2 separate regions of the Homo sapiens genome follow, and region 1 is linked to region 2. The links come from fine-mapping of genetic effects on gene expression. A gene starts in region 2. The other region holds a variant in brackets. All regions are shown on one strand. Distances are from middle to middle. Region 1 overlaps PCBP2 (poly(rC) binding protein 2). Region 2 holds the start of PCBP2 (poly(rC) binding protein 2).

Region 1 (4,386 bases), 27 kb before region 2:
TCTATTAAAAGTACAAAAATTAGCTGGGCGTGGTGGTGCATGCCTGTAGTCCCAGCTACTCAGAAGGCTGAGGCAGAAGAATTGCTTGAACCTGGGAGGCAGAGGTTGCAGTGAGCCGAGATTGTGCTACTGCACTCCAGCCTGGGCGAGAGTGAGACTCTGTCTTAAAAAACAAATCAGTAAGCCACTGGCTATTAAAATGACCCCAGCAAAGAACCCCAAGGAATCTCACTCCATTTCTACTCTTTCTCACAGGGCCCTCCCAATTCTGAGGACTCAGACTGTGACAGCACTGAATTGGACAACTCCAACAGCGTTGATGCCTTGCGGCCCCCAGCTTCCCTCCCTCCATGAAAGCCACTCGTATTCCTTGTACATAGAGAAATATTTATATAAATTATATATATATACATATATATATATATATGCGCCACATAATCAACAGAAAGATGGGGCTGTCCCAGCCGTAAGTCAGGCTCGAGGGAGACTGATCCCCTGACCAATTCACCTGATAAACTCTAGGGACACTGGCAGCTGTGGAAATGAATGAGGCACAGCCGTAGAGCTGTGGCTAAGGGCAAGCCCCTTCCTGCCCCACCCCATTCCTTATATTCAGCAAGCAACAAGGCAATAGAAAAGCCAGGGTTGTCTTTATATTCTTTATCCCCAAATAATAGGGGGTGGGGGGAGGGGCGGTGGGAGGGGCAGGAGAGAAAACCACTTAGACTGCACTTTTCTGTTCCGTTTACTCTGTTTACACATTTTGCACTTGGGAGGAGGGAGGCTAAGGCTGGGTCCTCCCCTCTGAGGTTTCTCAGGTGGCAATGTAACTCATTTTTTTGTCCCACCATTTATCTTCTCTGCCCAAGCCCTGTCTTAAGGCCCAGGGGGAGGTTAGGAGACTGATAGCATGTGATGGCTCAGGCTGAAGAACCGGGGTGCTGTTTAAGTCCCTGCTTTTATCCTGGTGCCTGATTGGGGTGGGGACTGTCCTACTGTAACCCCTGTGAAAAACCTTGAAATATAACACTCCATGCAGGCCCAGCTGTTGAGGGTTTTCTTGATGAATGAATGGGGTACCATACATGGTTAAGATAAAGCCTTGGGCTCCGGACTTTATCTGAGGTGTCTGGAGAAGTTCTCCTGCCCCTCCACTTTTTTGCATCTACTCTCACTAAATGAGTATAATGTCAAGCCCCAACTTTCTAAAATTATAGGAATAAATGGTAGCAGATACATCCTTCTAACTTGTTATGGAGGACTATAAATGAAGTTACTAAAAACAATAGACTGAAATTTTTAGTTTAAAATATGCAAGCCTGAACAAGGGGACCAACATTCCCAAGAAACTGGAACCCAGTCAGACATATGATCAACTGCTTAATGTGTATGCCATGTATGTCATGTGTCATTCCTTTCCCCCACCCCCTCCCTAGTGGAAGTGCTTGCCTACTCCCCTAGGACAGGTAAGTCCTCGGAAAGTCTAATCCTCAATCTTTTGGGCACAAGTTTTATAAGGGCCAACCAAGCATGGAGTCAGGGAAAAATAGGATCGAGGGCCACAAAAAAAGATGGAAGTGGTAAAATAGAAGAAAACATCTTAACCGGAATAAAGGCTTCCATTCAAAACCCAAGAAGGGTCCTTTGAGGGATAAAAGGTACAAAAATAACAGCAAGACAAGAGGAATAAAACCCACATGAATCACTGTGGCATCCAGTTTCTATTCACAAAGAAAAAGCTCCAGTCCATCTTTTAATTTTTTTGAAAAATTCCTGACATTACAGAACTAAACTGAAATGTATTAATATTCCACTCTTACATTTCCATGACAAACAGAAAAATTCATGAGCCAAAAAAAAAAAACCAGGGAGAAGCTTATAAAACTAAATATGGATCTCAGCATCAACAGCTGAACAGAGAAAGGAATTAAAACGCTTTAATTAAAAAATCAC[G/A]AGTGGATGATAAAGTGTGTAGAAACTGAAAATTTACAAACTATTTAAAACCTGGAATCGCTGACTGTTCAGAAACTACACAGATGGATCATGGGTGGTGGTGAACAGCAGAAAGGGATTATGGATGAATCTGCATTGTTCTAGCTGCTCCCCATGCCACCCGTCTCCGAGGAAAGCCTGTAACACAGAAACAAGAACTCAGTTAGTTTCCCCAGTGCTCAGCTGCACCTCATCTCTACCTGGTTCATGAAATGTGAAGAGTAAATAACCAGTGCTGGAGTACCAAGGGAGACATTTTAAGGTTTCTTAAATTTACCAGTACCATGATCCTTTAATCCTTGCAATTCAAGCATGTGGAGGTCTATTACCTCAGAACCAAGGGAAACAGCCCTTGTTATCCAATGTCCCTCAAACTATGTTCTCTTTTAGTTCCACCTCCATGGTGGGCTAACCAAGGAGTGTACTTTCTGGAAACAGGCCCCTCTAAAGAGTGCTCACAATACACAGAAGCAATGTTTCTTTATTGCTGAGCTCACTTTGGCTCCTCCCAAACTGCTGACAGAATACCAGTTTAGGAAAGAAAGAGTCATCTGAGAGTAGTCTCAAGGGTTTAATGCTGAGACAACTCAAGGCCTTTACTTTAAAGCCCTGGAGTTCTATCAATGTGTAGGGTATTATGAGGTAATACCGTTTTAAAGGTAAAAAAAAAAATGTTAAAAAGAGATGTAAAAAGAGTAACTATGGGTCAAGAATTATACTCAGATTTACTTATTTATTGAGACAGAGTCTAGCTCTGTCACCCAGGCTAGAGTACAGTGATGTGATCTTGCCTCACTGCAACTTGTGCCTCCCTGGCTCAAGCAATTCTCTTGCCTCAGCCTCCACCTGATAGCTGGGATTACTGGCAGCCACCACCACTCCCAGCTACTTTTTCTATTATTAGTAGAGACGGGGCTTCAACAGGTTTCCCAGGCAGGTCTTAAACTCCTGACCTCAGGTGATCTGCCTGCCTCTGCCTCCCAATGTGCTGGGATTACAGGCATGAGCCACCGCGCCTGGCCTTATTTATTTATTTATTTTTTTGAGACTGAGTTTCACCCAGGCTGGAGTGCAATGGCGCAATCTCAACTCACTGCAACCCCTGCCTCCCGTGTTCTAGCGATTCTCCTGCCTCAGCCTCCTGAGTAGCTGCAATTCCAGGCAGCTGTCACCATGCCCAGCTAATTTTTGTATTTTCAGTAGAGACAGAGTTTCACCATGTTGGCCAGGCTGGTCTCAAACTTCTGACCTCAGGTGATCCACTTGTCTTGGCCTCCCAAAGTGCTAGGATTAGGCATGAGCCACCACACCCGGCCTTAAAAAGTTCTTTAAAAAGTTTTCAGGACTTAAAAGTAGCAGACAAAATAATTTGTTTCAACTCTGTAGCTCACTCTACAAGCTCCTAGATCTTGTCAAGCCATATCCTCCATCTAAACATACCTGGCTACAATGCCTTTCTGTTTCAAAGAGATAGTCATTTGAGGTCCTGGAATCCAATTTAGGGCTTTCAGGGAAAAGTATTTAAGTACTCAGTATGCTTCACTGGTAGGTAGGTAGGCAGCAAGACTTTGCCCTCATTTTGAATAGAACCAAATGTATAAGACTTCATTTCAGTTCATAAGATAAGTTATTTCATAAGATTTTAAACTGATTAGCATAAAATATTTGTGATATGTGGTCATGAAAACATGATTGGTAATTCACCATCTGTATCCCTTCCACAACAATGCAAAGCCAAAAGCTGGGTAGAAAAGCAAGGGCCAAAAAACTGCAAAGTCCTTCGACTACAAACTATTTACTTTTAGTCAGAAATGGTTTCTCCACCTCAGTATTAAGGGAATATTTAGGGTTTTTTTTTTTTTTTTTTTTTTTTTTTTTGAGACAGAGTCTTGCTTTGTCACCCAGGCTGGAGTACAGTGGCGCGGTCTCGGCTCACTGCAAGCTCCGCCTCCCAGGTTCACGCCATTCTCCTGCCTCAGCCTCCCGAGTTGCTGGGACTACAGGCGCCCACCACCATGCCCAGCTAATTTTTTTATGTTTTTAGTAGAGTCGGGGTTTCACTGTGTTAGCCAGGATGGTCTTGATCTCCTGACCTCGTGATCCACCCGCCTCGGCCTCCCAAAGTGCTGGGATTACAGGCGTGAGCCACCGTGCCCGGCAGGGGATATTTAGTTCTTAAAAGGGGGGTAGATTCGTGCCAATTTCAAAACACAATGATCTAAGGAAAGGTAAACAATAGCCCTGGATTAAAGGGTTCAGTAAGAACTGAAGGTCTAAGAAAGGAACTGCTAGATACCATTAGATCTAGGACCTGAAAATTTAAGTTCATAAAAATTGGTGGTAGCACTCTGGCCCCACCAGAGCTCTGAAAGAAATGTTCTGAATGTGTATCAA
Region 2 (4,389 bases):
TAGAAGGCAACTTTCCAGTTCCTCTCATTAATGACAGGGTTTCCGCTGACTCTCAGGATGAACAAGGTTCTTTCAATTGGCAATGGTTCTAAGGAAACTGCTGAACGTGCACCACTTGTCCTTCAGCAGAAAAAGCTTCAAAGAATTCAGAAACACCTGGAAATCATGAGTGCAAATCTCCAACTACAGCGAGGGCAAATGACCTTTTGTTTCCCTGCTGGGGAGCAGTTTAAGTTGAAAACTAGAGAGAACACATGTAAATTTTCTTTGTAGTAGCAATTTGTAGATAAGGAAATTGAGATGTATCCCACATTACAAATTTCAACCGTTGATGGCTAACACCAAATGATTTCTAAAAGATTTAGATCAACACCCTCACTGAAAAGGCATTATCTGAGATGCCTTCCACGCAGGCTGGGGTTCCATATTCCCCTTTAGAAAATGACTCGATACATTAAGTACACTTGAGTCTTTTTCTCCTATTCCTCCTTCCAACCCAACTTGTTACTCAGATTTGAGATGTTTTCCTTGCTTTTGTGTTTACCATCCAGTTTTTATTTCAAGTCTATTAAATCTTAAATTTCCTTCCAAAGAAAACAATCAAAATAAAACTGGCATTGCTAAAATTTTTTGTTTTTAAGAACAGCAGCAAATGCACCTTTCCTATACAAGATGGCCCTTTTCCCACCTATGAAACAATTCCTAACATTGTTCCTAACATTTCTGCTTTAGAGTAACTAGTTATGTGTAGAAAGAAAATTTGTTTTTTTGGATATGCCTTTGCCTTCAATACCTCCTTTAGCACCTAATCGTAACAGCTTTAGAAAGGACCTCTCCCAAGTTGTAGAATGTCCCCAATGACATTTTAAGTATCCATCCTTTTAAAACTCAACATGTCATCTCTCTCCTCCCACAGCTAGATTTCCTCCTTCACAAAACCAGCCACTGTGTTAACTTTCCTCTAACACAAAGCCCATACCCTAAATATCTTAGGTGCTTAAGTGTCTGTCACACCATTCTGTATATGGCAAACTGTCCTCTGGCTACTCCAAGAATGTAAGTGATTATATAAGTGCATCCCCAAAGCACATCATTTCCCCATTTTCAGAATACAATTAATTGCTGGCAAAATCCCAGAATTCAACACTTTTCACTCATGGAAAAATAGTGCTTGGTGGGGGAAGAAGCGTTAGGTCTGTAAGAATGACTTTCTTTTTTTAATAAGATGTGGTAAAGACCTGGTAGTTTAATTCCTTACCCTCTTGCAGATGTAATAGGAAGCCCTTTACAAATATCACAATAACGCAACTTCGAAAAGGCAAAAAAAAAAAAAACAAAACAGGAAACCTATTTGAAGCCATTTCTTGAGGTAAAGTACAAAGATGCATTTCTAACTCCAAACCAAGTAATCCAAGAAATTTGTCGAATTTCCCTCCTGACTAGGTCAAGATAAAGGTACCCCATTCCAGCAATCCAGCTGCTAACACTGCTGTCCAATACCCCTTCCATAAATAGCTCGGTCTGGGATTACATCGGCAGGCATTTTGTAATTTAAAAATTCGTTACCCCGAGAAACGTCCTGATTAACTCGGCAACTGGGAGCCCGTCTACCCTTTCTTTAACTCCGCAGCCCCCTCTCCCCTCGGTTATCCAAGCATTTTCCACTTAAGAAAAAAAGCCCCCCCTTCCCTCGACTAGAAAGAGGGGGGAAAAAATAAACGGTTCGGTCGGGGGGGGGCGCTGCGATACAGGGGGAGGGGCCGGACTAATAGCGCCTCCCCGTGTGGCTGCGCCAGCGCCTGACCCCCGCGGGGAGCCGCGCTCACCCGCCCGGCCAGCAAGCCGGCCATCGCCTCCCCCAACCCCCCACAACCAACAAATCCACCGCCGCCCCCCCTACCGCGCGCGCGCCCTCCCTGACTCCTGCGCAGCCGCCACCGGGAAAAGGCGGGGGGAGGGGGGAATAGGCCTTGCGCGAGGCCTACTAGGCCGCGCCAGAGCCAGGGCCTCGCGTGAATGACCGGCCTGGCACAGTGAGGTGGTAGGCGCTCACGCGGGACTACGCGAGACCGCGGCTCGTGACTAGGACCCGAGCCGGCTAAGAAGAAGACAAAAGTGGAAATTGTAGCCATAGCCGGGGGCGCAAGGGAAATTTTTAGGCTTACCTGCAGGCGCGAGGCGACTGAGGGGAAAAGGGGAGCGGGCGGGAAGGGGAAGGGCGGGAGGCCGGGGGCGGAACAATAGGGGCGGGCGGGAAGGCGAGGGGGGCCCCGCGGGCGGGCGGAGGAGGAAGGGGGGGTGGAGGAGGAGGAGGAGGAAGGGGGAAAGAGACCCCGGGGCGGGTGGAGGGCGGCGGAGGGCGGGCGGGCGGGCGGAGGGCGGGCGGGCGGGAGAGGGCGCAGGCTGCGGCTGCTCCGGCTGCTGCCTCTGCTGGTCTGGGAGGGGGACGGGGCGGAGCGGCCTGCTTTCAACCCCGCGCACCCTTCGACCCCGGAAGCGCTAACCACCCCGGGGGCCGGCGAGGCGATTGCGTCGTCCAAGCCTTCCCCACGCAATGCAGACGGCCTCCCAAAAGCCTAGAGCGGCTCCTTTGACAGCGTAGGCACCAGCGAGACAACGGCTGCTAGCAAGCGACGAATTGCGATAGAGAGGGAGCGTGGGGGCAGAAAGGAAACCAGTGGCCCCTAGTGGACTGGCTGGAAAGTTCAGATGTTAGTGCGGAGAGGGAGCAGTCGCCATGCATCAAGAAGTGGAGAGGAGGAAAAAGGGATGGGTGGAAAGAGAAAGGATGAAGATAGTAATCTACAGGGATACTCAAAAAAGAAAAGGAAAAAAACTAACTTGCCACGTTAGAGGTGACCATTGTATAAACTCCTTACTCTTAAAAGGAAAGAATTAAGCATTTAACTTTCCTTTTAGGAAGAACTGTATATAGTTCATCTGTAATTGATAAGGGAAAGCTCTTTTTTAAAGAGTTCCATGTAATAAATCTAGAAGGAATGAAAGAAATAAAAGGAATGAGAGTTGAAAAGTCACCATTTTGCAACCCAGAATGAAATAATTGATTCAGGCAAGTGTATCAATCATTAAAATTTTGAGAAAGGTTGTTAGGGAACGGGATACTATCATGACACCAAATATCAAATATCACCACACAGATTTGCAAATATATATATATATATATATATATATATATATATATATATATATGTAATTTTTTTTTTAAGTAACTTCAAATGGGCCAGGGGTAGTGGCTCACGTCTATAATTCCAACACTTTGGGAGGCTGAGGCAGGCAGATCGCTTGAGCTCAGGAGTTTAAGATACCATCTCTACTAAAAATACAAATATTAGCTGGCGTGGTGGCACATGCCTGTGGTCCTAGCTATTTAGGAGGCTGAGGTGGATGGATCACTTAAGCCCTAGTGGTCCAGGCTACAGTGAGCCATGATGACGGCCACTGCACTGTAGCCTGTCTCAAAAATAACAAATTTTTTTTTGAGACGGAGTTTTGCTCTTGTTGCCCAGGCTGGAGTCCAATGGCATAATCTCGGCCCACCACAACCTCAGCCTCCTGGGTTCAAGCGATTCTCCTGCCTCAGCCTCCCGAGTAGCAAAAATAACAAATTTTTTAAAAGCAACTTCAAATGGAGAGATCTAGCAGTTACCACCTTACCCAAGTACATAAATGATCAAACTGCATCACTCATAGTAGGACAACTTTGCACCGTGTGGTCCTTGGAAAAATGCAACAAGTACACCACATCATCTATTAAATATTCTTGCCAAAAGTGCTTAATCTTAATCTAATCAAGTCATTAGATCTGATTTGCAATTTATAGGAAATTTAATACAACACAAGGAGATATTTTGCAAACCCACAACATTCCACAAGACAGCTAGCTGGTCTTGTCAAAAAAGCAATGGAAAAAAAAAAAAGAAAAAAATTGGCCAGGTGCAGTGGCTCACACCTGTAATCCCAGTAATTTGGGAGGCCGAGGCGGACGGATTACTTGAGGTCAGGAGCTCAAGACCAGCCTGACCAACATGGAGAAACCCCACCTCTACTAAAAATGCAAAATTAGCCAGGCGTGGTGGCGCATGCCTGTAATCCCAGCTACTCGGGAGGCTGAGGCAGAAAAATCACTTGAGCCCAGGAGGCGGAGTTTACGGTAAGCCAAGACTGCGCCACTGCACTCCAGCGTGGGCAACAAGAACAAAACACCGTCTCAAAAAAAAAAAAAAAAAATTAGTTGAACATGGTAGTATGCATCTGTAGTCCCAGCTACTCAAGAGGCTAAGGCGAGAGGATCACTTGAGCCGAGGAATTCAAGGCTGCAGTGAGTTATGATGGCACCACTGCACTCCAGCCTGGGTGACAGAGCAAGAC

What was found. PIP is the estimated chance that this variant, and not a neighbour inherited with it, causes the effect.
Region 1: its variant is fine-mapped to the expression of PCBP2 in B cells (Fairfax 2012, PIP 0.95). The same link has a PIP of 0.9 or more in NK cells, monocytes and monocytes after interferon gamma.

Annotation. Positions count from the first base shown.
Region 1 is chr12:53,477,150-53,481,535 of GRCh38, reverse strand. PCBP2 (poly(rC) binding protein 2) reads right to left here. Exons shown (of 15, transcript NM_031989.5): 15 at 374-2,130. The coding sequence ends at 2,094. MAP3K12 (mitogen-activated protein kinase kinase kinase 12) reads left to right here. Exons shown (of 14, transcript NM_001193511.2): 14 at 256-1,867. The coding sequence ends at 354. Among named protein-coding and RNA genes, the nearest start is that of PCBP2-OT1, 15 kb to the right of the region's middle. The variant G/A (reference allele first, on the strand shown) is at 1,954.
Region 2 is chr12:53,450,153-53,454,541 of GRCh38, reverse strand. It overlaps PCBP2 (poly(rC) binding protein 2), which reads right to left and starts at 2,440. Exons shown (of 15, transcript NM_031989.5): 1 at 2,166-2,440. RefSeq lists silencers at 1,709-1,958, 1,979-2,108, 2,329-2,428 and an enhancer at 2,609-2,708.